Linked DNA regions of Homo sapiens: all the other regions are linked to region 3. The links come from fine-mapping of genetic effects on gene expression. A gene starts in region 3. Each other region holds a variant in brackets. All regions are shown on one strand. Distances are between the middles of the regions.

Region 1 (6,533 bases), 91 kb after region 3:
GTATGGGACAGCAGTCCTGAGCCCTCAGATGTACCCTTAGTTGAGAGCCAGCAGGTGGTGGTGTGTGGCCTCAGGGCCCAACCAATCTAGGTGTGTGTCCCTTAAACTGGATTATTTATCCTTGGACAAATCAACTAACCACCTTAAGCTTCAGTCTCCTCACTTATAACTGAGGATAATCTTGCATCATAGGGTAGTTGTAGGAGTATGAGAACATGTATGTAGAAGAGCTTGGCATGGTGCCTGGGCATGTGGTCACCATGTCATATATTTTAGCTATTGTTATGATCTTTGTGTTTCATTCTTTGTAGACTATATATGTGTCTATCTGCAGGTGCTCACAGTTCTGTGCAATGTTGCAGAAAAGGGTCCTGCTTACTGCCAGCGGCTGTGGCCAGGGCCCCTGCTTCCCGCCTTGCTGCACACACTAGCCTTTTCTGACACTGAAGTAGTAGGCCAGAGTTTGGAGCTGCTGCATCTGCTGTTCCTGTATCAGCCAGAGGTATAGGTTTCTGGCCCACATCCTCAGTCACCCCTGTTCTGAAGCCACACAGTGGCTCCCTTCCCATCCAGTCCTAACTATAGTTGTTTCTCTGGGCCTGGCTAACCTATATAGGTTCCATGTCAGAAACTTCATCCTCTTGTTGGGGAATGCACCCTCTGGAGTAGGCTGACCCATGAGGCTGTGGGAATTGAGTCTTAGGACACAGAGACCAGGTGTGTTGAATTTTCTTCCCTGCCCCTAGGCTGTTCAGGTCTTCCTGCAGCAGTCAGGGCTGCAAGCCCTGGAAAGGCATCAGGAAGAGGCCCAGCTCCAGGATCGTGTGTATGCTCTCCAGCAGACAGCTCTTCAAGGGTGATCTTGTTTCTCAATGTCACTCATTCCCCTCTCTCTTAACATCAAGCTTGTTTGTCCAGTAGAGCCTTTGGAGATTTAGGACCATAATGAGGTCTCATGTTCTCTGCTCCCACACCTAAGCCAAGACCTTTGGGTCCCAGCTCCTCCCCTTCCACTCAGCACTATCCAGGCAGGAGGACCAAAAGGGACTCAGTGTGGTCTACTTACTCTGGGGCCCTAGAATCCCTGCCCCCCCGCCACCCTTCATGTTTGCTTCAGCAGCTGGTAGCTTTTGATGAGACAGAATAAAGTTTTATTTTTATATTAAGCTACTTTGCCTCAGTGGTTGCACAGTAAGGGGTAGAGGGTAGATGAGGACAAGAACACCCTGAGAAAGTATTTTACAGCACAAGCTTTATGAGGAATAGGAGAACACATTTTTTTCACATTATACTAAGTCCAGCAGAGCCCAGGCTCTGGGGCTGTTGCTCTTAATCCTCAGTGGAGGCTTCAGGCTTTACCACTTAGAACGTTCTCCAGGGCTCTGGTTACCTGATCAGCACTGAAGTTGTTCAAAGGGACATTCGTCTCTTGGCCAAATGCTGAAGAGAGAGAGGGAGGTGTCTTTAACTATTCTGCACCCTGGAGGCTACCAAAGTAAAATAAAAGATCTTTGTCTTTATCTTAGTCTTGTTAAGACAGGAAGAGTATTAAAGAGATATGATCAAAATACATTTGGTATGCCTAGAATTAATACAATAGGTCTCAAACACATCTAGGAAGCCCAAGTCCAAATAGAATTTTGGCTGATTCTGGATGGCCGCAATGGGTTGTTTCAGGGAAGCTTTCGGGGGCACTGTAGGCATTTATTATTAACTACGGTGAGCAATGTATTGCATGGGTCCAGCCTCAGCTGGGAGCCCATTCTCTCTCTTTTTTTTTTTTTTTTTTTGAGACGGAGTCTCGCTCTGTCACCCAGGCTGGAGTGTGGTGGCACGATCTCCACTCACTGCAACCTCCACCTCCTGGGTTCAAGCAATTCTCCTGCCTCAGCCTCCTGAGTAGCTGGGATTACAGGTGCCCGCCACCACACCCGGCTAATTTTTGTATGTTTAGTAGAGACGGGGTTTTACCATGTTGGCCAGGCTGGTCTTGAACTCCTGACCTCAGGTGATCCACCTGCTTCAGCCTCCCAAAGTGCTGGGATTACAGGCGTGAACCACCGCACCCAGCTGGGTACCCATTCTCTAGGCTCCCATAGGCTATCTAACATAATACCCAGCACAATACACTAAAGTTACTCGTGTCTATCTCCTCCTGTAGTCTACTGGCTTTTGGAAGGAGAAGCTTTTTTCCTTCTCCAATTATTAGTGCATGTCTAATGTCTACTGTGTCTCACAGATATCTACTCTGAGAACCAATCTGCTTAAGGTGGTCACTCTCCTCCACCTCCTCCCGTCATTCCCAGGGCACCATATAGTTAAAAGCTGTGATTAAAATCCTGTTATTCAGTATGTATAAACATTTATTGCATACCTACAATGTGTTAGGCAACATGATAGGAAAATTTCATTTTGCAATACATTGCCATGCCAGTCTTAGAGGGGTAAGTGCATTCTAGGAAGGGGAATAAATGTAAAGGCTCAATCCTGTTAAACTCTAGCTGCATCTAAAGTTGCAGCTAGAGTTTAACAATAGTGCAAAACAAAGTTTTGATTCCGTTTTCTAATCTCTACAGTGAGAAAAGAAGAACACGCTTCCTCCTAACTAATGAAGATTAAATGAGTTAGGCAGGGAAGCACTCAGCACAGGGCCCAGCTCTATGTGCAAAATTACTGAGATTCTCACACACTACCTGGACTGACACTGGCTACACGTTATTTGGAGAAACTATATTGACTAACTTCTCTCCTGTCTGAAGCCCATTCTTAACTACAAAAACGTCAGCTCCTGGTCCCTACGCAGGATTCGGTCAGCCTGCATACTTATGTTGCCCGGAATACAACGCATCATATAACCCTGCGAATATAAATTTCTTCATGGAAACAAGATCAACAGCAAGGCTAAAGTCCGAGTTCTAGTTTCTCCACGGGTTTCTGCACGACCTTGGGCGGTCCCTTCTCTTCTCAAACCCTTGTTCCCCTACCGGAGCCCCAGACCCCTGGCGTCCCGCACTCACCGTAGCGGGCCCAGAGCTTGGGCTGCACATCGGAGCATTCGCGGATTAGGATGGGTAGGTCGGGATTCGCCTTCTTCAGCTCCACGTAGCGTTTCTCAATGAAGTCCCTGCGGGGCCGGAGAGAGCGCCGCGCGTGCTGTGGGCGGGGGCTTCCCTCAACTTCAGGGAGGTCGAGGTCGTGACCCTGGCGTCCCGAAGCCCGCCCGCCTCACCACGCCGCGCCTCACCTGACGCCCTGGCTGCCGGGCGAGCGCTGACATAAGTGGATGCGAATCTCACGCAGGCCCAGCTTTGCCCCGACTCCTCGACTTGCTGCGGCCGCCGCCATCCTTGTTAATATCGAAGTCGCCAATTCCAGGTCTTCAGGCCAAGTGCTCCGGTCTGACCAACCGCGGACCCTAAAGCCTAGCCCATAGGCTGCATGAGGCAGGGGCGGGGTAAAGCTTGGCCAATGATATAAAAGTATTGTAGGACCGCTGCGAGGTCAATTTCTTTGCGCTCGGGGTTGGTCGGAGGGAAAAACAGGAAGCGGAAAGGCTGCGAACGCAAAGCAGTGTGGGTTGATTCTGAGGTGCACTGTGGGAAAGAGCTTGTCGCTGCGGTGTTGCTGTTGGAGACTCGATTGTTGGTGACAGCGAAAGAACGATAACAAAATGCCGGAGCGAGATAGTAAGGCTCAGGCCATCCGTTATTTCTTCCCCATGGCACTTGGGGCACTTGGCGCATTATTGTAGCTTCTGAGCTTAAGCCG[G/GGTGT]GTGTGTGTGTGTGTGTGTGTGTGTGTGTGTGTGTGTGTATGTATGTATGTGTGACGCTTGAGCCCGGAGAAGCCACAGGGTCCTAAGTGAGGCCGACAGCTCCAAACTCCGTCCCCAGTCCTCACTCCTACTCCAAGTGATGATGGGCGGCTTTTGTGCGTGGATCGCTTTCCCCCAGTCCTGTCCCCATACTTAATCCTGGGTTGCGCGTATTTATCTTTTACGTAGTATTTTAGACGTGATCTTCCGGAAGTCTTCTCTGATCCTCCAGCGCAGGATTAGGGTCCTCTGCTTTGTGCTCCCACAGCTTCTTGTAGTTTCCTATTTCAGCACTTATTACATTGTGTTGACACTGTCGCTGTTCTAACTTTTGTTCTGTATTGTTCACTACTATATCTCAAATTTTTGCATAGGATCTGACACGTAAGAGACTGATTAAATTAACGTCAATTTTTTTTGTCAGGTGAGCCGTTCTCCAACCCTTTGGCCCCCGATGGCCACGATGTGGATGATCCTCACTCCTTCCACCAGTGAGTATTTTGTGCTAGGACCATGGAAATGAGTTGGGCAATGAATAGAAAAGTGGTGGTGATGGTGAAAGAATTCTGAATGTCTTGTCATCAAGGATGGTAAAAAATTATACCCGCTGGCCCTTTATCTCTGTGAGCCTTAACTGGATCAGGCCAAGTGCATAAGGGTATTAGAAGGGAAATTCCTGCAGGAAAGGTGTTAAGTTTTTTTTTTTTTTTATACGTGTTGTGTAATTACACATTATATAGGAATTACTTCTTCCAATAGCAAATTAAAACATAGGAAATAAGGGTAAAATCATCTTTTTATTTTTTTTGAGACTGAGTTTCGCTCTTGTTGCTCAGGCTGGAATGCAGTGGTGCGATCTCGGCTCACCACAACCTCCGCCTCCCGGGTTCAAGCAATTCTCCTGCCTCAGCCTTCCGAGTAGCTGGGATTACAGGCATGTTCCACTACGCCCGGCTAATTTTGTATTTTTAGTAGAGATGGGGTTTCTCCATGTTGATCAGGCTGGTCTTGAAATCCCGACTTCAGGTGATCCACCCGCCTCTGCCTCCCAAAGTGGTGGGAGTACAGGCGTGAGCCACCGTGCCTGGCCCCCGATAAAATCATCTTTGATAACATCCCCAATTCCAGTCCATTTCTTTTTTTTTTTCTTTTCTTTTCTTTTCTTTCTTTTTTTTTTTTTTTGAGACGGAGTCTCACTGTTACCCAGGCTGGAGTGCAGTGATGCAATCTTGGCTCACTGCAACCTCTGCCTCCTGAGTTCAAGCGGTTCTCCTGCCTCAGCCTCCCAAGTAGCTGGGACTACAGGCATGTGCCACCATGCACGACTGATTTTTTTTTTTGTATTTTTAGTAGAGACAGGGTTTCACTGTGTTCGTCAGGCTGGTCTTGAACTCCTGGCCTGAAGTGATCCACCCGCCTCAGCCTCCTAAAGTGCTGGCATTACAGGCGTGAGCCACCGTGCCCAGCCTCAGTCCTTTTCTTAGAAGTAACCACAGTTACCTTTTTTGGCATATCTTTTCCTCCCGTTGCCCAGGCTGGAGTTCAATGGCATTATTTCTGCTCACAGCAACCTTTGCCTCCTGGGCTCAAGCAATTCTTCTGCCTCAGTTTCCCCAGTAGCTGGGATTACAGGCATGCCCCACCATGCTTGGCTAATTTTTGTATTAGTAGAGACAGGGTTTCGCTATGTTGGCCAGGCTGGTCTTGAACTCCTGACCTCAAATGATCTGCCCGTCTCGGCGGCCCAAAGTGCTGGGATTACAGGCGTGAGCCACTGCGCCTGGCCCTCCTACTCTTTTTTAAATGCATTTATACACATACATGCATATCTGAGGAAAACACAACATTGCTTTGTGATTTAAAATATTTGAGTTAAATGATATTATGCTGTATATATCATTTTTGCAACTTGCTTCTTTTTAAACCCTGCTCAGTGTTTCTGAGATTATCTTTCAGAGCAGTGACAAGCATTCCCTCCTTGGCTAAACTTTAGTCAGGTTCCCCAAAGAGTCCCATTTTTCAGCAGGACTCATCCGTGGCCTGCTGAGCACAGTTTTAACAAAGAAATCAACCACCGCTCCACCCCCATACCTAACCAAGTTGCTTTTAGTAATTTTCTATAAATTCTCACTTGTCCCTGTTGTATTCGGAATTAAGTTCAGTCTCTCTACTCTATTACAATGGTCTTGACTCTTGTTACAGTAGTCTTCAATAAAGTCTTCCTTGGGGAGAAGAGGAACTTGATTAGATATCAAGTTGGATTGGATATCAAGAGTGGGAAAACTTTCTGTGAACTGACTTAGGATTCCTTTTTAAAACTGAGGTCAGCAGGCCAAGGAAGAGCCCTAGTCAGAAGAGAGCTTTAAAGGAGTCTGACTTTAATTTGATCAAGAGAGGAGTCTTTGTTAGTGTACCAATTAAAATAATCTCTTGTACCATTAGTGCTGTCTTTCCCTCTTTGGGAAACACCATCATAGTTTAGTCAGTCTCCAGCTAATAAACGCTTAGTCTGTTTCAGACTGATTCTTTTCTTTTTTTTATTTTTTTGAGACAGAGTCTTGCTCTTTTTGCCCAGGCTGGAGTGTAATACCTAGATCTCGGCTCACTGCAAACTCCGCCTCCCAGGTTCAAGCGATTTTCCTGCCTCAGCCTCCTGAGTAGCTAGGATTACAGGCGCCCACCACAACGCCCAGCTAATTTTTTTGTATTTTTAGTAGAGATGGGA
Region 2 (6,533 bases), 61 kb before region 3:
AACACTCTACTACATTTGATGCACTGTGTTATTTTTAGTTATACTTTTTCAACCTGATTTTCTATTTGAGATCCAGTTGGGAATGCTGTTTAAAAATCATTCTAGTAGGGTGCTGTGTGATGATGTAAGCAAGGGAATTACAGAACAAGGTTTAAGTTTTATAGACAAAACCAAGTAAGGAAATATGAAATCTAGTCTAGATCCTTCTGTATATCATGTTTTTTTCCCATTGGCCATTATTTTTCCATTGTACAATGCACTGATTATTTTTAGACACAAAAATGATTGATAGGATTAAGCTCAATCCAATAAAAAACTAAATATTTGGCAAATACATGTCCACCTCATTCCTTCACTGCCAATAAAAAAATAAAGGCCATGTTTAAGCTGTCACTACATCATGGCTTCTAATACAGATTTTTTCTAGTTTTGTTAATGGAGGGAAAGTGAGAGGCAAAGGAATAGGATAGAAACCAAACCAAAAAGATGAAATGGCGACTTTACCTGTGGTTCTTTCTTTGAGACGGAGTTTTAGTCTTGTTGCCCAGGCTGGAGTGCATTGGCACGATCTCAGCTCGCTGCAACTTCTGCCTCCTGGGTTCAAGCGATTCTCTTGCTTCAGCCTTCTGAGTAGCTGGGATTACAAGCATGCGCCACCACACCGGGCTAGCTAATTTTACATTTTTAGAAGAGACGGGGTTTCTCCATGTTGGTCAGGCTGGTCTAGAACTCCCAACCTCAGGTGATCCACCCGTCTTGGCCTCCCAAAGTGCTGGGATTACAGGTGTGAGCCACCGCACCCGGCCACCTTTATTTTTAAATAGTACTTTATGATATCATTCACTGATACCAGTGAATAGATGTCTTTGTATCTGACACTGTAAGCTGTTTGAAGGAGATAGAACCCTTTTATTTTCTGGTATCTTATAATACTACTTACTACCTGTTGAAAATTTTGTTGCTAAAAGAATACTTGTCTTAATCTCTACCCAGAAACTGTAGATGTTGCTTTAGTTTCTAGGACTAATTAGGCGACATTATCTGTTTTTCACCAATCTGTTTTATTCTTGATGTTATAGCTTGTGTTAGTCCTTTGATGTGTCTTTAGGCAATTCCACTAACTCCATGGCTATTTTGAGATGAACCACTTTTTATGCATCATTTTTGCCATCTTCCATTTTTAATGCTACATACGTTCTGGGCTTATAGTTTGTCTATTCATAAATTACTCTTAGTAATCTTGTGTTCCACGCTTCTTGCATATTATTTGTTAACAAGATAGACAGGGCCATTCCTATCTGTTACTGTCCTCAAAATTCTACTCTTATTTTGGATTATACTATGTATAAAGATTTTAAATCTGTGAATGTCCAGTGGGGTCATAACATAATTACTAACCAGTCTGGTTAGTGTTGAACTCTTACCTAGTTTTCCTGAATCTTAAATACAAATTGCTTAGTAGCTATACAAGGGTGTTTTGAAACTAATGGATGTTTAAAGGACCATGGACCATTCAGTCTTTGTAGAACTTCTAAATGTACTCGAGTGATGTCATTGAATTTATTACATGACTGAATATTTCTTTGCTATTGCTGTGGATTTGTACATTGCTATTTGTGACCATTTACCTTCCTTTTCTTGTTGATTGTCATTAGGCACTTTAAACAAATACTGTAAATCAAAACAGGGACTCCTATATGGTCTTAGGAAAGTAATAATAAAATTAGCTCACAAATCTAATTGCTTTTGCTCTGAAAGAATAAAGTCTTTTTCCATCATTTTTACTCAGAAAGAAATATAAATTGAGGAAGGCTGAGGCTGGAGAATTACTTTAGGCCAGGAGTTCAAGACCAGGCTGAGCAACATAGCAAGATCCCATCTCTTAAAATTATATATATATAAATTGAATATAGACAGTGTACTTTGCAATTTAAGGAATAACTAAGCCTCTGAAAGTGATTGCAGTGATATTGAAATTGTGGTCATCTTACCTTATTAAAGACAGTATGTAGGTGAAAAACTTAGACTTTTTTAGTAATGACACATGTTGCATATGTTTGAGCTACCTGCAGTTTTGAGATCTCTATTCTAGCAAAAAAGTAGATGAATCTCTAATTTTTTTTTCTTCAGTAGTTTTGTCACCCCTTTGAAATTCAGAACATTTCATGTCTCTAAATGATCTTTTTTCCTTTGGACTTGAGAATCATTTTTAATACAATGGATGATTTTATTTTAAAAATTCCCAAATTACCTATGTTATTCATATATGTTGACTGCAATTCAAAATAATAGATAACTTTTTTACCCAGCTTTTCTCAAACAGCTTTATTGTTTAATTTACATACCATAAAGTTCCCTTGTTTTAAATGTACAATGCAATGAGTTTTAGTAAATTTACTGAGTTGTGTAACCATCATCACTATCTAGTTTTAGACCATCTCCATCTGCCCAAAAAGATCTCTTATGCCTGTTTGCAATTGATCCTCATTTTCACTGTTATAACCTCAGGCAGCCACTACTGTCCCTGTCTCTATAGATTTGCCTTGTCTCTGCAGATTTGATATGAGTGGAATTACACAATGTGTGGTCTTTTGTGTCTAGCTTCTTTCACTTAGTATAATGTTTTTGAGGTTTACTCATGTTGTAGCATGAATCAGTAGTTTGTTCCTTTTTGTTGCTGAATAGTCCTACTTTTTTTTTTTTTTTTTTGAGATGGAGTCTCGCTCTCTCAGGCTGGAGTGCAGTGGCGCAATCTCGGCTCACTGCAAGCTCCGCCTCCCGGGTTCACGCCATTCTCCTGCCTCAGCCTCCTGAGTAGCTGGGACTACAGGCACCCGCCACCATGCCTGGCTGATTTTTTGTATTTTTAGTAGAGACGGGGTTTCACCGTGTTAGCCAGGATGGTCTCGATCTCCTGACCTTGTGATCCGCCTGCCTCTGCCTCCCAAAGTGCTAGGATTACAGGCGTGAGCCACTGTGCCTGGCCTAGTCCTACTTCTAAACAAGATTAAGCCTTAGATTTGCCTCAGAGTAGGTATTGTACGTCAAAAAATTTATGTCCTTCATTTCATGTCCA[G/T]ATGTTAGGATTATTAATATTGATAATTATTTTTCAGCTGATTTGTTATGAAGGAAGGAACTTAAGTGTAATTTAAAACCTTAAAATAATATACATTGCCATTGTTTGTTAACATATACTGTCAGCATGAGTAACCCTAAATGGGAAGTCTGATTTTCTCCTAGGATCATTTATTGTTTCTCTCATAGACAGAATTTACTTGAAGTGTTCATTTAAATGCAAGTTGTCCTTTGCATAGTAAGTTTAACAGTGTTCCAGTACAGATGTGTTAAAGGTATATTTAATGGAGAATTTTAGAAAGACATGTCTTGAAAAAACTGATTTCACATTATATTTCAATATAAGAAGAAAAATATTTTGACTGAAAAACACTATCCCCTACTTTGATCTGTAAGTTTTGGTCTTTTGCATTAACTCTGCATTGCTTGCAGAGTTGATATTGCTAAAAGAATGATTGTTCTAAATGGGCAGTTAACATTTCTGGTATTTTCAACGCTATTTTGATACTGCTTTAGATTTGGTGTTCTTTAAAAAGTCCAATCTAATCAGCAGAATTTTGAGATTCTTGCCTCTTGGTTTTCCTTTTCCCCGCCCCTGACTTAATTTCCAAAATCCTCCTATCCTAAAGTAGATTTTTAAAACTTCACAGTTTTTGAATTAGCAACATCCTAGTTTGTGCTGCTTGAAATAGATGAGTATAGGCTTTAACCTGCCTAACACTGGTGTGACTCTGAACATTCATTCTATAACATTAGTTATAAGGGTTTTGGGAGGGAGGTCCGTGTGTGTGGGAGGGGAGGCTGGTTTTCTTTTTTTTTTTTCTTTTCTTTTTTTTTTTTTTTTTTTTTAGCATGGCACTCTTTCAAACATTTTTCATGTGCTTAGGTACATCCAAGCAGAAGTCCAGTTCCCTCCAGGTAGCAGATCAGGACCTACTGCCATCTTTTCACCCATACCAGCCTTTGGAGTGCATAGTAGAGGAGACTGAAGGCAAGCTGAATGAACTGGGACAAAGAATTAGTGCTATTGAAAAAGCACAGCTTAAGTCACTGGAGTTAATTCAAGGTGAACCTCTGAACAAAGATAAGATAGAAGAACTTAAAAAGAACAGAGAAGAGCAAGTCCAGAAGAAGAAGAAAATATTGAAAGAACTGCAGAAAGTGGAAAGGCAGTTGCAGATGAAAACACAGCAGCAATTTACCAAAGAATACTTGGAAACCAAAGGTCAGAAAGACACAGTGTCTCTACACCAACAGTGCTCTCATAGAGGAGTCTTCCCAGAAGGGGAAGGAGATGGTAGTCTCCCAGAGGATCACTTTTCAGAGTTACCTCAGGTTGACACAATCTTATTTAAAGATAATGATGTTGATGATGAGCAACAGTCTCCACCATCGGCAGAACAGATTGATTTTGTCCCAGTCCAGCCTTTATCATCTCCACAGTGTAACTTTTCCAGTGACTTAGGTTCTAATGGGACAAATTCTCTTGAACTTCAGAAAGTATCAGGTAATCAGCAGATTGTAGGACAGCCTCAGATTGCTATTACTGGACATGATCAGGGGCTGTTAGTTCAAGAACCAGATGGACTAATGGTTGCAACTCCAGCTCAGACGCTTACCGACACTCTTGATGACCTGATAGCAGGTGGGTTAAGAAATATATCTGTAATAATTTCTCTTTAATCTGTGTGCTGAACTTCTTTATATACCCCTCCAAAAACGTAGACTTTGTACGTTTCCATTTTAGAACTTTGTAAAATTACCCATTTCTCGAAGTATTTTGGAAGTGAATTAACTATGCTCAATAGCACTAACACACAAAAGTGTGTTTTCCCCTCTTCTTTTTTGTCATATTGCAAAGGCAAAGAAATAAAGTTGCCACAATCCTTTGTTTTAAACCGTTGGTATCAAAACCACTGTGTGCTGTGACTTGGGTAGGAGATCTCAAAGTAGAATTTCTTTGTAGGCTTTTAGAAGTATTCGTATAAGATTATACTTAAAATTTTCCTGCTGTTGATTTTCATGTCTGGAAATTTAAAATCACACAGCTTTTTTAATTTGTAATTTTATTAGATCAACTTACGTATTTCCAATTAAATGGGATGTTCAGATAAAACTAAGTATTCCATATTATAATATTTGTGGTTAGAAGATAAGGTGCATTAAAATGATTGTCACTTGATGATTTGAAGATTGGGATTTTTGCATTAACTTTCTTAATGAAAGCACACAACCACACCACACCACACACACACACACACACACACACACACACACACACACACACAGAAAAAAAGGCCTGATAACCTTGAAGTATATGTTTCTGTTTATTGTTGTGTGGAAAATTACAACTAGATATGAAATGAGGTGCACAAGTTTACTTTCCCTTTCATTGTCCTTGCAGCAGTGGGAAAACAGTGCAATTAATCATTTACCTTCCTAAAGATGGCTGGTGAATGTATCACCTCCATGAGAGCCCAATTCAGAAATGCAGCCAGAATGGCTGTTGACAGTGGATGAAGACCAAGAACTAAGATGTAGCTGGAGTGATATTCAAAGGCAGGCCAGTCCTCTGTCTCTTGATTGCAACATTTTTTTCCTTACTGTTGTCTGTTGCCTCTTGTCATATTCTCCTCCCCTTCTCCCATCCCAATTATGCTATCTCAGTTTCCTTTCTTCTTTTGTGAGCCTTTAGTCTTCCTGATCTTTACTGAATCTTTTTAAATGTGGAATAAGATTACTGAAATCAGGAATTTTATTGGGCATGTGTTTGACTTCCAATGGTTATAGAATTGTGATATTGCCTTTGAGGCTCCTCTGATATGTAATAGGTATCATTGTGCAGAGGAGGAATGTCTTAGTTTTCTTAAAGAAAATTAAAATTCTGGGAAATGTTTTAAGGAGTTAGGCTCTTTGTTCTTTAATTTGGGTTTTTATATCTTCAGTTGGTAGACACAAATTAACTTTGTATTATTAGCATTGAAAGTTGTTATAAATTGTGAATAAATTCTTGTAGTTCATTTGGAATTCTAATTTTAATCTGGGTAAAAACAGATTTTAGAATGTGAAGTATGATTACGAATAATAATGATGAAACTGATGAACTGGGAATAACATTTTTAACATGTAGTGTTCTGTAACTAGCATTATAATGTTCCTAATTAAGTGCACAGTTTGCAGTTATGAAATCTGTGTTACTGATTAGTTCAGTTATGTTAGAACTTTTTTTTTTTTAAAGAATGTAGAAATAGCTCTAAAAGGAACTTGTAAGTGTTAAGGAACATCAAGTTTTATTTCACTGAAGTATTTGTTAAATTAGTCTTTTACAAAGTTTGCATGAAACTTAGAAAATTGGCTTAGAAATTATCTTTTTATTAATATAAACAAAATTTAATTTGTGTTAGACATTAATACCTACCACATTGTACAATATTCTTTTATTAATAAGTTTTAAATTT
Region 3 (5,000 bases):
CCTTTCCTTGCTATCTTCTTCTGACACTGCCTAATGTTTCATTGAAAAGTAGAGGTCATTAAACAGAACTCTCTCATCTTCCCACCACCATTCCTCCTAACCCACCTGCATCTGTGGCCACTTTTCTTCCTCTTGTAATAGATGAAAAGGTTCCTGCTCCTATCAAAAGCCATCTTACCAGCTGTACTCTGCATCCTAGCCTCTCTTGTCTTCTCTAGACTTCCCTACTGTAACTATCTTCTCTTGCATCATCAGCTCCCCCTCTCTACTGAATCATCCCGTTAGTGTACAAACATGCTCTAGTATATTACTATCAAAACACTCCCTTACTTCATGTTCCATTTTCAGATACTGTCCCATTTCTTATCTCTGCAGCAGCATTTGAGTGAGCTCTTTATAGTCACTCTCTCTACTTTTCACATTCTCTCCTCAGCCCATTCCAGCTGTTTCTGTTCTCACTACTGCAGAGACTTGCTCTTGTTATGATCACGAGTGACTGCTATGTTTGTCAAATCTACTGGTTCCTTGTCGCTCTTTTTTTTTTTATTGAGATGGAGTCCCAGGCTGGAGTGCAATGGTGCGATCTCGGCTCACTGCAGGCTCCACCTCCCAGGTTCAAATGATTCTCCTGCCTCAGCCTCCCGAGTAGCTGGGATTTCAGGTGCCCGCCACTACACCTGGCTATTTTTTGTATTTTTAGTAGAGACAGGGTTTTACCACGTTGGCCAGGCTGGTCTTGAACTCCTGACCTCGTGATCCACCCGCCTTGGCCTCCAAAGTGCTGGAATTACAGGCGTGAGCCACTGCGCCTGGCCCCTTGTCTCTATCTTGATGTCTCAGCAGCATTCATTACTATTGATTCATGTCTTTACGCTCTCCTATTTTCTTTTTTTATTTTGGTTTTGTCACAGAATATCACTCTGTCGCCCAGGCTGGAGTGCAGTGGTGCGATGTCGGCTCACTGCAACCTCCGCCTCCCAGGTTCAAGCGATTCTCCTGTCTCACCCTCCCAAGTAGCTGGTATTACAGGCCCAGCTAATTTTTGTATTTTTAGTAGAGACAGCGTTTCGCCATGTTGGCCAGGCTGGTCTTGAACTTCTGATCTCAGGTGATCTGCCCACCTTGGCCTCCCCATGTGCTGGGATTACAGCCGTGACTCACTGCGCCTGGCCTCTCCTTTTTTCTTCTTTGGCCATTTCCCAATCTCCTTTGCTGATTCCTTCTCAACCTTGAAATGCTAGAGTGCCCTACGGCTCTGTCCCTGGCCATATTCAAGCCCATGACATCAAATACCATCCTTGTAATGGTGACTTATTTCTCTAATTCTGGCCTAGAACATTCCCCAAAAGTAACAGCCTAAACTTCACATGGCCCCCCAAAAAAACTCCCCCTCCCCAAAACCACCATCCCCAGTCTTCCTATATCAAGCAAAAAAATTCAGTTATATGGATTCTTCCTAATCTACTCATTCCTACTGACCTTCTCCATCTCATATCCATCCAACTCCTACCACCCTGACTCCCACCCTTATGCAAATCATTAAATCTTGCCTATATTACCATAATAGCTGTAATTTGTCTTTCCACTTCCCTAAAATCTTGTTTTCACACAGCAGACACAGTGATCTTTCCAAAATGTAAATCAGTCCCTGGTTCTCAAGCTAGGAAGATAGTGCCCACAGGGCAAATGTCTGGAAACACTTTTGGCTATCACAACTGGGTGGATGCTACTGACATCTTTTGGGTAGAAGTCAGAGTTGCTGATTAACATAAGACACAGGAAAGTCCCTCACAAAGAATTATCTGGCCACAACCTATCAATACTGCTGAGTTTAAGAAACCAAGCCTTGTATCATTCTTCTACAGCAAAAAGGGTGTGGAGAATGGAGGGCCACTGAAAGAACCAAACCTGAGCCCCTTTATGGGGGCCACGGCACAGCCCATTTAATGGCTTGGAAAATTCTCGGGGGGAAAGGTGGCTCTCCTCTACTTTAAACTTTTCAATGGCTTCTAACTTTATGTAGATTAAAATACAAATTCCTCATCCTGCTTTACAAAGCCCACTATGCTGTAGCCAGCCACTCTGTATTTCATCAGTCTCTGAATTGGCCAAACTTATTCCTTTTGCAGCTGTTTCTTTTGCTTGGAATGCTTTTGTACATGATCTTTGTGTGGCTTAAATGTCAGCCCCTCAGACACCTCGTTACCCAGTCATATTACATCACCGCTTATTTTCTGTAGCACCCTCACCACTATTTCATCTTTCAGCCCATCTCCAGTGCTGCAACGTGGACTTCCTGAAAGCAGAGATCTTTTTTTTTTTTTTCTCACTGCTGTCTAGTTCGCCCTCAAACAGTGCCTGACTTATAGAAGTGCTCAGTAAATAACAGTGATTAAATGAATGAAAAACTGTGAAGTCTGACGATTATCATATACCTAAGTGAAGACAGAATGGACAAATGAATATGCCACTATACGGTTCTGGCAAGAGGTATAGGTTAACAAAGAAAAATAACTTCAGGATTAAAACTATATTAAAAGCCACAGGTCTGGATAAGATCATCTAGGATGAAAAAATAGTCTTTTTAAATCAATACACCATTTATTAACCTGAGCAGCAGAGAAGGGGCTCGGAAAAGCACCTGCTCTGAGACCCTTACTGGAGCCCCAAAACTTCTCTCCTTAAGGAGCCCTCGGGGAGAGAAAAAAGCCTTCCAAACAGGCTTATGCCTTACACCCCCCCCCCCCCATTCTCCGTCTGTCTCCGAGCACAGGGGCCCCACGCACCTCTGGGGGATCCATCCTGGGGTGCGGCGACCCTCTTGGTAAGCAGCGAGCGCCTGGGTCCGCCGGCCTGGGTCTGCAGCCCGTATGAGAACTGCGGCGGGTCGTTCCAGCCGCGTTCCTTGTTGCCTGCGGAGGCGAGGGATGTGTGAAGCGAGCCCGGAACTCCACTGTTAGCTTATACTGGGGCTGGGGGAGACAGAGGGTCCATACTAAGCGCCGCAACCGCCCCCAGCCTAGGCCGGGGCGACAACCTAGTGCCCTAGCCCGCCGGCTGCGCTCACCCGGCTTCACGTACAGCTCCGCCATCTCCACTTCCGCTTGGCCAGCGGGGCAGCGCGTCATTTCCGGGGCGGCCCCTCACGCGGGCCAGTTGAGACACGTCCAGGGCCAGGCGGGTTGCCGGAATCCGTGGAGGATGGATGCTGGTTCACAACCGTCGGGAGCCGCTGTGGGGACCCTGCGGCAACTCCCTAAGACTCGAAGGCTCCATCTAATGAACCATCAGGGCCCTGGTCACAAGGCACCAAAGGAGGTTGCTGTCCAGGAGCCAGTGCTCTAGGAGGCCTCATCCTCTCAGGAGCAAATTCAAACAAAGAAGCTCCTGCCCCACATACACCCCGCTGTGATCTAGCCAGGTTGACTTCTACAGCCTCCTCTTGCATTGCCCTGCACAATCTCCACATTCACGTCCGGTAGCCTCACTAGTACTCATCTTCCTTCAGTTCTCAGTTCAGATGTCAGTTCTTCAGGAGGCCTTCTGGAATGTCTCAGGCCAGGTTAAGTGTCTCACTTGAGCTCCCACGACCCTACAACCCTCTGAGATTTCGTAGGTGTATTACATCACATCTTCTGCCTTATTTGACTCTTGTTCGTTTCCCTGTCGGACAGTCTTAGAAGGTGGGACCTTGACTATTTTATTACATTCCCAGTGCCCAGCTTAGTGCCTGGCACAGGGAACTCCTTAGAAAATATGTTTGTTGAATGAAGTCAGATCTCCATCACACCCATGCTGTCATGTGACTACAGAGAGCCACCAACATCAAGCACAGACACAAAGACACTCATCTCACACAGGGTGTTAGCCCCCAGCCCTGTCCCAGGCCCAATATACTCACATCCAGTGAGGTCACTGAGGGATTTTTATTTGCACTGATTTTGCTATAAAGTGTTACTGAGGTAGAGCCAACTGTCCAGGGTTGGACAGGGGCAAGGAACACAAGGACCCAAGGAAAGGGGAGCCAGGGTCCTACGTTGTGGTGCAGTGCCTCCCAGTCATCCGTATAAACAATAAATTGGGCAATAAATAGACGGTGGACAAGGATCGGAGGGACAGGCAGAGAAGGCTTCAAGGAGTGACAGGCTATAGGCCTTGAGGAATAAAACGGTACAGAGTTAGGCATGGACCCAGAGCCTACTTCCCCAGCCTTCCCAGATAAGTTTAGGGCATATGGAGCAGAGAGGGTTTCAGCCGGAAGGCATCAAGAAAAGAGAAGACACCCCGCTTTCGAGGGGTTGCCCCTGCACCGCCAACCCCTCCTTTGAGCAGGGGGAGGGGCAGGGGACCTCCTGGGGAATCCATGGAGCTGGTCCGCTTGAGCCGCAGGCGGGCACGGGCCTGGGCACCCCAGGCCTTGCCTCGAGCTGCAGAGGCCACAAGACACTTCTGGTACTGAACCTAGGGAGAAGGGGAATGTGAGGATCCAGCTACTTTCTGCCTCTAGACTCCCTGAAAGCTTCTGCAGGACAGGGAACTGGCCAAAGCTTCTGTCTGATAACAAGGTTGGTAGTCAGCCACATGTGGAGTTTCTAGAGCATTCCCAGGTAGCTCAATAACAAAATCATAAAACATGTATCAGACACTTAAGGAGGGCAGGCTGGACACTGCTAAGTGCTTTGTATAATTCAGTTATTTATGAGGGGTTATTATCCCTGTTTTGCAAAAGAGGAAATTGAGATTCAGAGAGTATATGACTTGCCCAAGGTCACACAGCCAGAGAAAGGCAGAAATGGCATTCAAACCTAGTTCTCTCTGATTGCAGAGCCTAAACTCTTAATTACATGTACCACTATGTTGCCTCTTTTCCATCTCTCACTGGTGGGGACTAGTCCCTGGCAAAGCAGATTCCCTAGTCAAGGGTAAAGGTGTACAACTCAAACTCCAGCCCCAATGCAACTGCTCCCAGTCATCTCATCTGAACAGCTCAAAGGTGTCCT
Region 4 (6,533 bases), 82 kb after region 3:
CTGTAGCTGTCTGAGCAGACACTGGGCAGAATATAGCTTTTGGCTGGGAACTTTTTTCATCTTCCCCACCTGGAGCACATGTGGGTTTTGTTGTTGTTGTTATTGTTGTTGTTTTAGATGGAGTTTCACTCTTGTTGCCCAGGCTGGAGTGCAATGATGCAATCTTGGCTCATCGCAACCTCCACCTCCTGGGTTCAAGCGAGTCTCCTGCCTCAGTCTCCTGAGTAGCTGGGATTACAAGCACGTGCCACCACACCTGGTTAATTTTGCATTTTTAGTAGAGACGGGGTTTCACCATGTTGGTCATGCTGGTCTCGAACTCCTGACCTCAGGTGATCCACCTGCCTCCATCTCCCAAAGTGCTGGGATTATAGGCATGAGCCACCTTGCTGGGCCAAGTGTGGGTCTTAGAAGCTAGCCTGGGTTAGGTGCAGTGGCTCATGCCAGTAATTCTAGCACTTTGGGAGGCCAAGCTGAAAGGATCATTTAAGGCTGAGTTCCAGGCTGTGATAAGCCATGATTGCACTACTGCACTGCAGCGTGGGCAACCGAGCAAGACCCTGGCTCAAAAAAAAAAATAAATAAATAAAATAAAAATAAAAAAGTTTTTCTTGGGGAAATAAGAAAATAAATTTTTTTTAATTAAAAAATTAAAAAAAGAAGCCAGACAGTTGCATGAGGAAGGGCTCAAGATCCAGGCCCTATCCCTGGCCAGAGCATGGTGCACAGCAGGTACTCAGTAAATGGCTCTCCAGGGGCTGGATGGATACTGGGAGAGAAGATATGGAGGATGGAATGATGGCCTGTAGATATTTTAACATGCTGTTTTGTGGAAGAGATTGCAGACTTCATTGATTAACTCCAAGGGGTAGAATTAAGTTCAAGGGAAAGAAATTGGTTTTAAGAATAACCTTTTTCCTAGATTTGTACTTAATTGAACCTTTGCCTAAGTTATATGGCTTTTTAAAAATTAGAGGTTTCCTGTAAAAATTCTTAGGTGCCACCGGGACCCTAATCTTCTGGAGCTGCCAAGGGGGTCTGGGAGGAGACAACATCAAATAATTACACTATAACTTAATGATAGCTGTGAAAAGGGTTGTGAAGAAGCTGGGTCATTGGTACAATGGTTCTGAGTAGGTGACACTGGACTTGACATGTTGAGAATGGTGTTGAGGGAAGGATGCTGGTAGAAAGAAAAGGGAAGGATGCAGGCAGAGAAAACAGCTTGTGCGAGAGCCTCCCCCAAGAGTGGGAGTAGGGTGGAGGAGAAAAAGAACAGGGCTTGTTGACAAAGAGAAGGTCCCAGAAGAGGTGAGTCCAGATTGGAGAGGTATGCAGGGGTTAGACCATGTAGGGCTAAGTCGGCCACAATTCCAATTTTGAATGTGAGGAACACGGTTTTTTATTCACTAGTGTTTCCTCAGTGCCTAGTAGACTAGTGGCACTCCACATTTGGTGAAAGATTTTATCCTAAAAATTATGGGAATTCAGTTTTATGCAGAGAAGTGAAATAATGATATCTTTCTCATTTTCATCACATATAAAATGAGAATAATGGTCATTGTGGTGAACATTCTGTAAAGCAAAAATAAAATTCTAAGGCCGCCCCCCACAACCATCTGAATGGACTTCCTCCTCAGCCAGGGCTCTTTCAAAATTAAACCCGAGTGACCGTTTCAGGCCATGATGGGAAGTAGGGGTTGAACGTGCCTCATTATACCTCTCTACCGTTAACATCAACACAGACTTTAAGTTTGATAAGAAACATTTTACAACCCATTCTCTCTGAAGCCTAGGATTTGAAGGTTTCCTCTGCAAATAAGAACTTGGGTCTCCACAATCCTTTATCTTAACCCAGACATTCCTTTCTATTGATTTCAGGTCTTTAGAGAAACTCAACCAATTGTCAACCAGAAAAATTTAAAATCTACCTATAAGCTGGAAGCCCCCCACCGCCCCACTTCGAGTTGTCCCGCCTTTCTGTTGTCCCACAAACCAATGTCTTTCTCTCTTTCCCCCTCCCCTCTCTTCCCTTCCTCCTTTCCTCTTTTCTTTTCTTTCTTTCTTTTCTCCCTTTCTTTCTTTCTTTCTTTCTTCCTTCCTTTCTTTCTTTTCTTTCTCTTAGGAATAACGCTCAAAATCCTAAGGGAAATTGAACACTCGAACAAAGGATTATTAGCAAAGCAATTTTACTTCTGCTCAGAGGGGTGTCTGCTTGGCCAGTCGCCATGAGAGCACACCTGAACAAAGGGGCACGAGAGCCTTTATTCCTGACGCAAGTCCTGCCCCTGTACCCTTTCCCCATTGGCCGGGGTCGGGTCATACAATCTGAACTAATCCCGGTTGGCTAAACATTTGATTTTTTTAGGTAATGTGGGCACGTAAAAGAAAGTGGAGAGGAAAGGGGAAGGGGTGCCTGTAATGAACTAGAAAGTTAGTCCTCTTTCCAAATAATGAAAGGAATGTGAGCTGGTACTGATAACGTCTGGTACTGATAACGTCTTGTACTGTGGCGTGCCTCGGCATCTAACGAAGGCAAAAAGGAGAAAAAGGAAAACAAAAGTGTGTGTGGGGGGGAGTACTATGAATTAAAGAATAAAAGATTGATCTAATTATTTGAAGAGAAACCTCATCATATCCCAGATTTCTTTCTTTCTTTCTTTCTTTTTTTTTTTTTTGAGACGGAGTTTCGCTCTTGTACCCCAGGCAATGGGGCGCGATCTCGGCCCACTGCAATCTCCGCCTCCC[G/A]GGTTCAAACGATTCTCCTGCCTCAGGCTCCCGAGTAGCTGGGATTACAGGCACCCACCACTACTCCCGGCTAATTTTTGTATTTTTAGTAAAGATGGGGTTTCACCATGTTGGCCAGGCTGGTCTCAAATTCCTGACCTCAGCTGATCCACCCGCCCAGGCCTCCCAAAGTGCTGGGATTACAGGCATGAGCCACCAGGCCCGGCCCAACCAGTGTATTTCTTGAATGAACTGAAGTCTCATATCTCCCTAAAATATGTAAAACCAAGCTGTACCGGACCACCTTGGGCACATGTTCTCAGGACCTCCTGAGGGCTGTGTCAAGGGCCATGGTCACTCATATTTGGCTCAGAATAAGTCTCTTCAAATATTTTACAGAGTTGGACTCTTTTCGTTGACAATTCAATGACGCTTCAAGCGTTTTTGGCAGCTCTCATCAGTGGGATCCGCATTAATAGTGAAACGGCATCATGGCGCTTCCCGCAGTTCGGGATTGTTTTGAACTTTCATCTAGAGCGTATTGTGGGTGGGGAAGTTGTGTTTGCTGAGTAGATTGTGACACTGCTGGCTTGGGTCACTCGAGGTCAGGGATGAGAGACTTTTTTTCCTAGAATTGGTAAGACAGGAAATCAATCAGAGGCAGAGCGACGCCTCTGGCTCTGGTCTAGTGGTGCAGCGTCTCTAGCCCTCGCCCCGCCCACCGTCCCCGCGAGGCGTCCACTCGCCGAGCCCCGCCCTCACCCAGCACCCACCCCGCTCCTCGCGCCCTCCCCGCCTGTTCCCGCCCTGTGCTGAGGCTGCGCAGTCGGTGCCATCTTCTACGCCCCTGGGAGCGTTGTGGCTGCTGTTTCCTTCGGCTTTCCTCCTCCTGCTCCACCATGTGGAGCCGACGGCAGGGCCGCCTCAGGCCCACGGTCTGCGGGGTGGAGGAGCTACGGCGCCGCCGGCGGGAGCGGGAGGCAGGTGTGGGCGGCCGAGGGAGCGCGGGGGTATATGGCGGTCGGGGATAAGTTGAGACCCCAGGCTCGGAGCCGCGGGTTCTGGGTTGTGGTCGTCCTTCCCACGCTCAGCCGGCTCCTCTGCCCCCAGCACTGCGGAAGGCGCGGAGGGAGCAGCAGCTGGTCAGCAAGAGGCTGCTGAGAAACGACGCCCCAGAGGAAGCTGGAGAGGGATGTGTGGCTGCGATCCTCGGGGAAACCGAGGTGAGGGGGCAAGGTAGGGTGCGCTGGAGTCCACGCCCGCTGGCGCCAGACTCCCGGGAGTACTCGAGGTCTGCCCCAAACCTGAACGCAATCCACTCTACACTTCCACGCATCCAGTGGGTCAAGCCAGAAACAGGGGAATCATCCTGCACAACTCTTTGACCCACAACCCCATATCGATCCATCATCAAGTCCTAGTTGTTTACCTCCTGAAGAGCTTTGGAGTCTTTACATGCCTCACCATCGAAGCTGCCACCACCACCTCCTCTCTGGATACTACTGCAGTCTCCTAAAAGGTCACCCTGCATCTATGCTTGTCACCGTCACTACGTCCTTTAAAAACACGTGGAGACCAAAATCTTTCCTGTGCCTTGCAAAGCATAGCATGGTCTAGCCTCTTCCTAACTCAAATTTTATCAGTTTTCTCATCCTACCCACCGTCCTCTTTTTAGTTCCTGCAACGATATATCGGATTTGTGTCTCAAGCCCTTGGCATTCGCTACGTCTAACGTTCGTTTCTTTTGGTATTCTGTCTTGAGAGCCTATTTTTTTTCTTTTCTTTTCTTTTTTTTTTTTTGAGACTCTCGCTCTGTCGCCAGGCTGGAGTGCAGTGGCATGATCTCGGCTCACTGCAACATCCGCCTCCCGGGTTCAAGCGATTCTCCTGCCTCAGCCTCCCGAGTAGCAGGGATTACAGGCGCGCGCCACCACTAATTTTTGTATTTTAAGTAGAGGCGGGGTTTCATCATGTTTGTCAGGCTGGTCTGGAACACCTGGCCTCATGATCCACCCGCCTTGGCCTCCCAAAGTGCTGGGATTACAGGCGTGAGCCACTGTGCCCGGCCACCTACTTGTTTCTTGTAGAATATTAATCATTATCTAATGGTTTGTCTATTGTTATTTCTCCAACTAGACTTTAATTGCAGGAAAACCTAGATCCTGTGTTGTCATTGAAAACCCGGTTGCCTGCACATTATCTGGCATATAGTTAAGTACTCAGTGTTTATTGAATGAGTGAATGAAAGGATTTATTCAGTAAGCATTGAGTATCCCCTGTATTTGTATTATGTTTACGTACATAGTTTACCGTACATACCATGTTGACATATATATTATCAACTTATTCCTAGGTCATACTATTCCATTGTATGCTTACTTTATGCCAGGACACTGTGCTGGTCACTGAGGTACACAAAGATGAAAGGATAGAGTCCTTTTCTTTGAGGTGCTCACAGCCCGGTGAAGAAGACAGATGTCACAAGGGAAGGAAACATGAGGAACAAGAGAAACTCCTAAGTCTCTCAAAAAGAGCTAACTTCCCAGAGGAAATGAGGAGCAGAAACCTGAAGAGAGTGGGAAGCTGGAGAGGGTATCCAGGCAGAAGAAATAGCATGTGCAAAAGCTCGGAAATGTAAAAAAAAGAAAAAGAAAAAGCTCATGTTAGGCTGGTTGTTGTTAGAGTGTAGGTTGCATGGGGAGAATGGCTAGAGGAGTAGGTTTTGCCAGGCTGAGAGGTTTAAATATCCTTGAAAGAACCCTGTATGAAGGCAGGATAGATATTGTTATTCTCATTTTCAGGTGAGGAAACTTAGGTTCAGGTCCCATATGGAGTAAGTGGCAGGTATGGTATTAGAACTCAGTTCTGATTCTCTGTCCACTCCACTGCAAGGTAGATGCTTATTAGTTGCATTAGTGTGAATGACAAGTTCTGAAGGTGTGATATTGGAAGGCTCACAGGTGAAGTGGGCAGAGAGAGACTTAGGACTTGCTTTCTGTGAACCGTGTGTTCTCCTTTCCCTGCCCTGAACTCCAGGTGCAGCAGTTCCTGCGGCAAGCCCAGCGGGGGACAGAGGAAAAGGAGAGAGAGGGGGCTCTGGTCAGCCTTCGTCGAGGCTTGCAGCACCCTGAAACACAGCAAACCTTCATCCGGTCAGTGTGGATGGTGTGGTGGAGGGAGGAGTTGGGGCTCTGAGGGATGGACCACAAGCTAAGCAGGGCTCTGGTACTCACTCACATAGGCTGGAGGGCAGCATGCGGACCCTGGTCGGGCTCCTGACCAGCAACCAGGCCCTGCTGCAGCTTGAGGCGGCTCGGTGCCTGCATGAGCTCTCTCACTCCGAGCAGTCCACTGTTGCTGAGGCCTGCCTGCCAGCCACTTCTTACCTCCTCACCTACCTCTCCAGTCACAGCTCAGACTTCATAGTAAGCCCTGTCCCTTCCTATCTTGTTCTTGGTTTAGATTTTAAAATTGTGCTTTTGGGACCAGTTTGAGCTGGCAGGTAGGAGGAAGAAAACATGTTTGCCCTTATGCCTACAGCCATGGCTACACCCATCATCTCCCCACCCTCTTGTGAGCCGCAAGGATAGCTGCTCCAGCGTCCCCATCACCTCCCCTCCCCATCTCCCCACACGCAGCCTGGCATGAAACAGGCCAAGCCCAGTGCTTTTGTTGCCTGTTCTCAGGAGCTGTGTCTGTATACACTGGGTAACCTGATCGTGGAGAGTGAGGCTGTGAGAAGGCAGCTCCTGCCACAGGGCATTGTTCCAGCCTTGGCTGCCTGCATCCAGGTGACTCCTTTCTTC
Region 5 (6,533 bases), 22 kb before region 3:
CTGGCCAACATGGTAAAACCCTGTCTCTACTAAAATACAAAACATTAGCTGGGTGTGGTGGTGCACTCCTGTAGTCCCAGCTACTCAGGAGGCCGAGGCAGGGGAATCACTTGAACACAGGAGGTGGAGGTTGCAGTGAGCTGAGATCGCGCCACTGCACTCCAGCCTGGTGACAGAGCGAGACTCTGTCTTAAAAAAAAAAAAAAAAAAGAAGTACTGATTCATGCTATAACATGGATGAACTTTGAAAACATTTTACTAAATGAAAGAAGCCAGTCACAAAAGACCAGATATTTATTTTATGATTCCATTTATGTGAAACATCCAGATTAGCAAATCCATAGAGACAGAAAGTAGATTAGTGGTTACCTAGGATGAAGGGGTGATTGGAGGGTGGGTGATAGCTTAGGGGTGCAGAATTTCTTTTTCTTTTTTTTCTTGAGACAGGGCCTCACTCTGTTGCCCAGGCTGGAGTGTAGTGGCGTGATCATGGCTCACTGCAGCCTCAACCTCCTGGGCTTCAAGCAATTATTCTACCTTGGCATCCCAAAGAGATAGGATTGCGGGTGTGAGCCACCATGCCCAGCTTCAGAGTTTCTTTTTAGGATAACAGAAATGTTCTAAAATTGATGTGGTCATGAATGCACAATTCTGTGAATATACAAAAAGCTACTGAATAGTATAACTTTAAATGAGTAAATTGTATGGTTTGTGAATTAAATCTCAGTAAAGCTATTAAAAAGTACATTTATGTGGCATCTACATTTAGGTCCCCAAAATGCACATCATGATCTTTAAAAGCTATCATGATTAGCTGGGCATGGTGGCTCACGCCTGTGCTGGGAGGCTGAGTTGGGTGGATCACTTGAAGTCAGGAGTTCAAGACCAGCCTGGCCAACATGGGGAAACCCCCGTCTCTACCAAACATACCGAATTTAGCCAGGCATGGTGGTGGGTGCCTGTAATCCCAGCTACTCAGTAGGCTGAGGCAGGTGAATCGCTTGAACCTGGGAGGCAGAGGTTTCAGTGAGCTGAGATTGTGCCACTATACTCAGCCTGGGTAATAGAGCAAGACTCTGTCTCCAAAAAAAAAAAAAGCTATCATGATCTTTACAAAAGACTGACAGATTTCACTGTAAAAATATTGACAGTGGCCAGGTGTGGTGGCTCACACCTGTAATTTGAGTACTTTGGAAGGCCAAGTCAGGAGGATCACTTGAACCCAGGAGTTCGAGACCACCCTAGGCAGCATAGTGGGACCCTGTCTTGATAAAAAATAAATTTCAAAGTTAGCTCAGTGTGGGACCGGGCACGGTGGCTCACGCCTGTAATCCCAGCACTTTGGGAGGCCGAGGCGGGCAGATCACGAGGTCAGGAGATCGAGACCATCCTGGTTAACACGGTGAAACCCCATCTCTACTAAAAATATAAAAAAATTAGCCAGGCGTGGTCGCAGGCACCTGTGGTCGCAGCTACTTGGGAGGCTGAGGCAGGAGAATGGCGTGAACCCGGGAGGCGGAGCTTGCAGTGAGCCGAGATCGCGCCACTGGACTCCAGCCTCGGCAACAGAGCGAGACACCCTCTCAAGAAAAATAAATAAATAAAAATAAATTAGCTCAGTGTGGTGGTACACGCTTGTAGTCCCAGCTACTCAGCGGGGCTAGGCAGGAGGATTGCTTGAGCCCAGAGGTCGAGGCTGCAGTGAGCCATGATCACACCACTGCTGCACTCTAGCCTGAGTGAGAGAGCAAGACCCTGTCTCAAAAAAAAAAAAAAAAAAAAAAAACAAGAAGTTATTATAGAAATGATTCATTTCAATAAAAAAAGAAAGAAATGATTCATTTCCTACTTACAGACTTTTTAAAGCCACATTCAGTATTCTCACTACCTCTAGGTTTTGCTAACATCTACTTTGGTTAGCACTAGAAAATTTAATTTTTTTTGTCAGGAAAGCACAGTAATAAATTGCCTACTGTTGCCTACCACAATAATGAAAGTCTGAAATAAGTAGGAAATGCATTAAGTTACCCACATGTCCAGAGTAGGCAAATCTATAGAGACAGAAAGATTAGTGATTGCTTAGAAATGGAAATATGAGGCTGGGTGCCGTGGCTCACACCTGTAACCCCAGCACTTTGGGAGGCCGAGGCGGGTGGATCATGAGGTCAGGAGATCGAGACCATCCTGGCCAACATGGGGAAACCCCGTTTCTACTAAAAATACAAAAAATTAGCCGGGCGTGATGGCAGATGCCTGTAGTCCCAGCTACTTGGGAGGCTGAGGCAGAAGAATGGCATGAACCCGGGAGGCGGAGCTTGCAGTGAGCTGAGATCGTGCCACTGCACTCCAGCCTGGGTGACAGAGCAAGACTCCGTCTCAAAAAAAAAAAAAAAGAAATGGAAATATGAGGGTGAGGACCCAGTGAATGACAGGTAATGAGTATGGAGTTTCTTTTAAGGGAGACAAAAATGTTCTAACATTGATTGTGGTGATGGTTGCACAATCCTGTGAGTATACTAAAATCCAATGAATTATATACTTTAAATGGGTGAATTATATGGTATGTGAATTACATCTCGAAGTCATTTTTTTTAAATGATGGGGAAATCAAAGTCTGAAAATAAGACCTGCTTAAAAGAAATTTTGACAGTCGATGTTGATATTAACTACTTTTTCCTGAAATAATAAACCATAATCCTTTTCCAGACCTTCATCCTCTTTTCCTAATACATTTTCCAGAGAAAGCAATGGAATTTGAGAAGATGGCTAAGTTCAGATTTATACAAACTAGATAGAAACTTTGATAATAGTTTGCAACTGTTGATATTTTCTATCAGATAGAATACTGAAATTATCCTCAGTAGTAGGCTTTTCCTCTTTGTGAGGAAGGAAACATTGGTAGATTTTGTTACTTATCTTCTATAGAAAATGACTATAGTTATACAGATGAAAAGCTGTACTTTGACTACAAAAGGGAATGCAGGAGTTATTGTTGGGTGCTACTTAGTTACAGCATACTCCCATTTCATATCCCCTCCAGTTAAAAGCTTTGAGATTCATCTAGAACATTACTCCAGGTGACTGACACTCTTAAACATTGAGCCCATTTTCCTGTATCTAGTGCTGTTTGGCGATATTCTTCTGGACTGTAAGGAAAAA[A/G]TGGATTTGGCCATACAGTATCACATAGATGGATTGTTTTTGCTGTGGTCTATGAAAATGAGCCACATGCTATCTTTTATTTATTTGTTTGGTTATTTTTACAGCTTATCTCACTTTGGTGGAAGTCTTCTTGGGCTTTCAATTTTAAAGTTTTAGCTAATTGGATGTCTTGGACCTGTTTTATTTCAGGGTTACCATCCATTGACCCATCAGGCAGCTCCCCATCTTCCTCTTCTGCTCCTCTGGCAAGTTTTTCCGGCATACCAGGAACAAGGGTTTTCCTGCAAGGGCCAGCTCCTGTTGGGACTCCTAGTTTCAACAGACAACATTTTTCTCCCCATCCTTGGACAAGCGCCTCAAACTCATGTAGGAATCCTGGAGGAACTCTTCCCAAAGAGTTTTGAATAAGTTATTAAATCATTTATTTCAGTTACAACACCATGTTGTAACTTTAGTAAACTAAGTGGTATACAGATGCCCAAGGTTTGTTCTGTGGTCATGTGAAAAAATTGTCAGTCATTTTTAGCATAGAAAACTTGAGAATTATTCTTTCAAGCCAAAAATGTTTTACAGTAGAACTTGGATCAAGAAAAGAGGTACTAGGCTGGGTGCAGTGGCTGACACCTGTAATCCCAGCACTTTGGGAGGCCTAGGCAAGAGGATCGCTTGAGCCCAGCAGTTGGAGACCAGCCTGGGCAACAGCAAGACCCTGTCTCTATTAAAAAAAAAAAAAAAAAAAAAAGTACCGCAAGTAGTTTTACAAAAGGACCCTTTGGAAGCAGTGTTGTAAAATTATTTCTTAAATCTGGAAAGAAGTTGAATTTTTGTATATGGTCAGTTTGGTGTGATTTCTCATGTATTTTTACATTTTATGAAACTATTGCCTTTTATAAGTTAAAATATTCCTTTGTTCTATTGATTGATTGATTGATTGATTGAGATAGAGTGTCTCGCTCTGTTGCCCTGGCTGGAGTGCAGTGGCACGATCTTGGTTCACTCCACCTTCTGCCTCCCAGGCTCAAGCGATTCTCCTGCCTCAGCCTTCCGAGCAGCTGGGATTACAGGTGCCTGCCACCACGCCTGGCTAATTTTTATATGTTTAGTAGAGACAGGGTTTCACCATGTTGGCCAGGCTGGTCTCAAACTCCTAACCTTGGGTGGTCCACCTGCCTCAGCCTCCCAAAGTGCTGGGATTACAGGCGTGAGCCACCTGCCTGACCCCTTTGTTCTATTTATTTCAATGTTTAGAACAGATGAAGTATGTGGAATTGAACGGAATTGGATTTTTATTTTATTTTAATGAGCATCATGAGGTAGTCAGTGAGTATTGGCTTTTTTGACAAGGAAAATTACCCAAATCACCCAAGAGTTCCATTAAGAAACAAAGCTGTGAATCAAAATCGTACAATGCTTTGCTAACATTTGACCTTATTTCCTTATAGAAACAAAAAGGGCTGTAGAAAGGGAAAAAAGAAAAGACTAACAAGTATAGAGGGTCACCAGATGTTTTCTAGAAAATATGCTAGGTACTGTGCAAATATTGCCACATTTTAGTTAATTTTCAAATGTGGCTGGGCGTGGTGGCTCACGTCTGTAATCCCAGCACTTTGGGAGGCTGAGACGGGCAGATCACCTGAGGTTGGGAGTTTGAGACCAGCCTGACCAACATGGAGAAACCCGTCTCTACTAAAAATACAAAATTACCAGGTGAGGTGGTGCATGCCTGTAATCCTAGCTACCCGGGAGGCTGAGGCAGGAGAATCGCTTGAACCCAGAAGGCAAAGGTTGCAGTGAGCCAAGATCACGCCATTGTACTCCAGCCTGGGCAACAAGAGCGGAATTCCGTCTCAAAAAAAAAAAAAAAAGTGACAGTAATGTTTTGAGCAGATTATTTAGAGCTAGAATAAAAACAAATGTGGCCTGCTTCCTTTCTAGCATTGTTTAGTTCAATTGGGAAAACATTTTTTAGACTGTTGTATACTTATTATAGGCAGAAATCGTGTAGGATAATGTCTATAGAAATTATGTTTTATTTGAATGTTCTTTTAAAATGAAAATTTTCTTTACAGAACTTATGTTGTGGAATAGATCTTTCCAACAAGGTTTCTCATATTCTTATAGTTTTTTATATGTAATAAAACAATAGAGAAATATTTTGCCACCAGGTGACTCTCCTATTCCATCTGTTTCTTCGGGATCATCTTCACCTCTTTCAGCCACTTCTGCCCCACCAACGTTGGGCCAACCAAAAGGAGTCAGTGCCAGTCAAGATCGAAAGATACCTCCCCCAATTGGAACAGAGAGACTGGCCCGAATTCGGCAAGGAGGGTCTGTTGCACAAGCCCCGGCGGGGACCAGTTTTGTCGCTCCCGTTGGACACAGTGGAATCTGGTCATTTGGTGTCAATGCTGTGTCAGGTACAATTGCCTTGCTCTCTCTCTGGAGGGATATCTTAAGTAAGCTGTAGGTTTGCCATTAAAACTTAGTTCCTTAGAAAAAACAAACAAAAAAAACTTAGTTCCTATGTTTAACACTCAATTAGGGAAGGGTGTTTATATCTTTGAGGAGTTCAGTCCAATTTCAGAGTCTGGAATATTGGTTGAGGTAATACATAGAGTTAATCAGAAACAAAAGATTCAAAGTGTGTGTCCTTTCTCTCTTAAATAATCATTTGAGTTCTTTCAGAGAGTACTTAATCTTTTAAAAGACAGGGTAAAGTGGAGTATTCAGAGGACTTTACCTAGTTTTTCAGGAACTGGTTTTTTTTGGCTAGCAAGACTGTGATAAATACGCTTTGAGCTCTTCAGAGGAAAGATTTCAGTAACATTTGGTCATGTTTGGTAATAACAATGGTAATGTTTTGTTGTTTTATCCAAATAAATTTAAAACTTTGTTTTCAATTATTCTTTCCAGAAGGCTTATCAGGTTGGTCGCAATCTGTGATGGGGAACCATCCAATGCATCAACAATTATCAGACCCAAGCACATTCTCCCAACATCAGCCAATGGAGAGAGATGATTCTGGAATGGTAGCCCCCTCTAACATTTTTCATCAGCCTATGGCAAGTGGTTTTGTGGATTTTTCTAAAGTGAGTTGACAAACATCACTGTAACTTGATTGACACTTTGTCAGCCAATGTAGTCACATTAAGGAATACCTTGTATTGAAATAATGCTCCCTTTTGTTTCTGTGGCTTTGCTAGATCTTTTGCTTAATTTCAGGAGTGCACAGAGTTGTCCACAGTAGTTTGTCCTGAAGATGTCCCCATCCCCCGAAAACACCTGAGGGATTTGGGTTTTGCCACTTTGTGCTCTGCTACTACAGCTTTGAGGGAGGCCTCTACCCCTCTTAAAAGCTGGCCATGAGTTCACTG

Which allele goes with the higher level. Alleles are on the strand shown, and positions count from the first base shown. SD is a standard deviation of normalised expression in the study named. Not every link is listed here.
With allele G in place of GGTGT in region 1, the expression in monocytes after R848 of the gene that starts at base 3,113 in region 3 is lower (moderate effect, 0.43 SD a copy in Quach 2016).

Evidence for each region.
Region 1: its variant is fine-mapped to the expression of SRA1 in monocytes after R848 (Quach 2016, PIP 0.95).
Region 2: its variant is fine-mapped to the expression of SRA1 in whole blood (INTERVAL, PIP 0.90).
Region 4: its variant is fine-mapped to the expression of SRA1 in whole blood (TOPMed, PIP above 0.99).
Region 5: its variant is fine-mapped to the expression of SRA1 in whole blood (TOPMed, PIP above 0.99).

Annotation. Positions count from the first base shown.
Region 1 is chr5:140,644,239-140,650,771 of GRCh38, forward strand. TMCO6 (transmembrane and coiled-coil domains 6) reads left to right here. Exons shown (of 12, transcript NM_018502.5): 11 at 335-502; 12 at 747-1,166. The coding sequence ends at 860. NDUFA2 (NADH:ubiquinone oxidoreductase subunit A2) reads right to left here and starts at 3,392. Exons shown (of 3, transcript NM_002488.5): 1 at 3,245-3,392; 2 at 3,018-3,124; 3 at 1,047-1,440. The coding sequence starts at 3,345. The coding sequence ends at 1,349. It overlaps IK (IK cytokine), which reads left to right and starts at 3,591. Exons shown (of 20, transcript NM_006083.4): 1 at 3,591-3,686; 2 at 4,233-4,299. The coding sequence starts at 3,671. MIR3655 (microRNA 3655) reads left to right here and starts at 3,606; the gene lies at 3,606-3,688. RefSeq lists enhancers at 2,970-3,389, 3,130-3,665. The variant G/GGTGT (reference allele first, on the strand shown) is at 3,769.
Region 2 is chr5:140,492,559-140,499,091 of GRCh38, forward strand. ANKHD1-EIF4EBP3 (ANKHD1-EIF4EBP3 readthrough) reads left to right here. Exons shown (of 36, transcript NM_020690.6): 15 at 3,962-4,720. It overlaps ANKHD1 (ankyrin repeat and KH domain containing 1), which reads left to right. Exons shown (of 34, transcript NM_017747.3): 15 at 3,962-4,720. Among named protein-coding and RNA genes, the nearest start is that of EIF4EBP3, 52 kb to the right of the region's middle. The variant G/T (reference allele first, on the strand shown) is at 3,077.
Region 3 is chr5:140,554,361-140,559,360 of GRCh38, forward strand. It overlaps SRA1 (steroid receptor RNA activator 1), which reads right to left and starts at 3,113. Exons shown (of 5, transcript NM_001035235.4): 1 at 3,068-3,113; 2 at 2,787-2,912. The coding sequence starts at 3,092. It overlaps APBB3 (amyloid beta precursor protein binding family B member 3), which reads right to left. Exons shown (of 13, transcript NM_133173.3): 13 at 3,908-4,461. The coding sequence ends at 4,225. RefSeq lists a silencer at 1,673-1,822 and enhancers at 2,346-3,167, 3,033-3,392, 3,483-3,542.
Region 4 is chr5:140,635,902-140,642,434 of GRCh38, forward strand. It overlaps TMCO6 (transmembrane and coiled-coil domains 6), which reads left to right and starts at 3,550. Exons shown (of 12, transcript NM_018502.5): 1 at 3,550-3,711; 2 at 3,838-3,950; 3 at 5,764-5,879; 4 at 5,969-6,152; 5 at 6,414-6,518. The coding sequence starts at 3,627. RefSeq lists a silencer at 3,362-3,611. The variant G/A (reference allele first, on the strand shown) is at 2,749.
Region 5 is chr5:140,532,014-140,538,546 of GRCh38, forward strand. ANKHD1-EIF4EBP3 (ANKHD1-EIF4EBP3 readthrough) reads left to right here. Exons shown (of 36, transcript NM_020690.6): 30 at 3,349-3,525; 31 at 5,376-5,576; 32 at 6,073-6,248. It overlaps ANKHD1 (ankyrin repeat and KH domain containing 1), which reads left to right. Exons shown (of 34, transcript NM_017747.3): 30 at 3,349-3,525; 31 at 5,376-5,576; 32 at 6,073-6,248. Among named protein-coding and RNA genes, the nearest start is that of EIF4EBP3, 12 kb to the right of the region's middle. RefSeq lists an enhancer at 1,547-1,606. The variant A/G (reference allele first, on the strand shown) is at 3,160.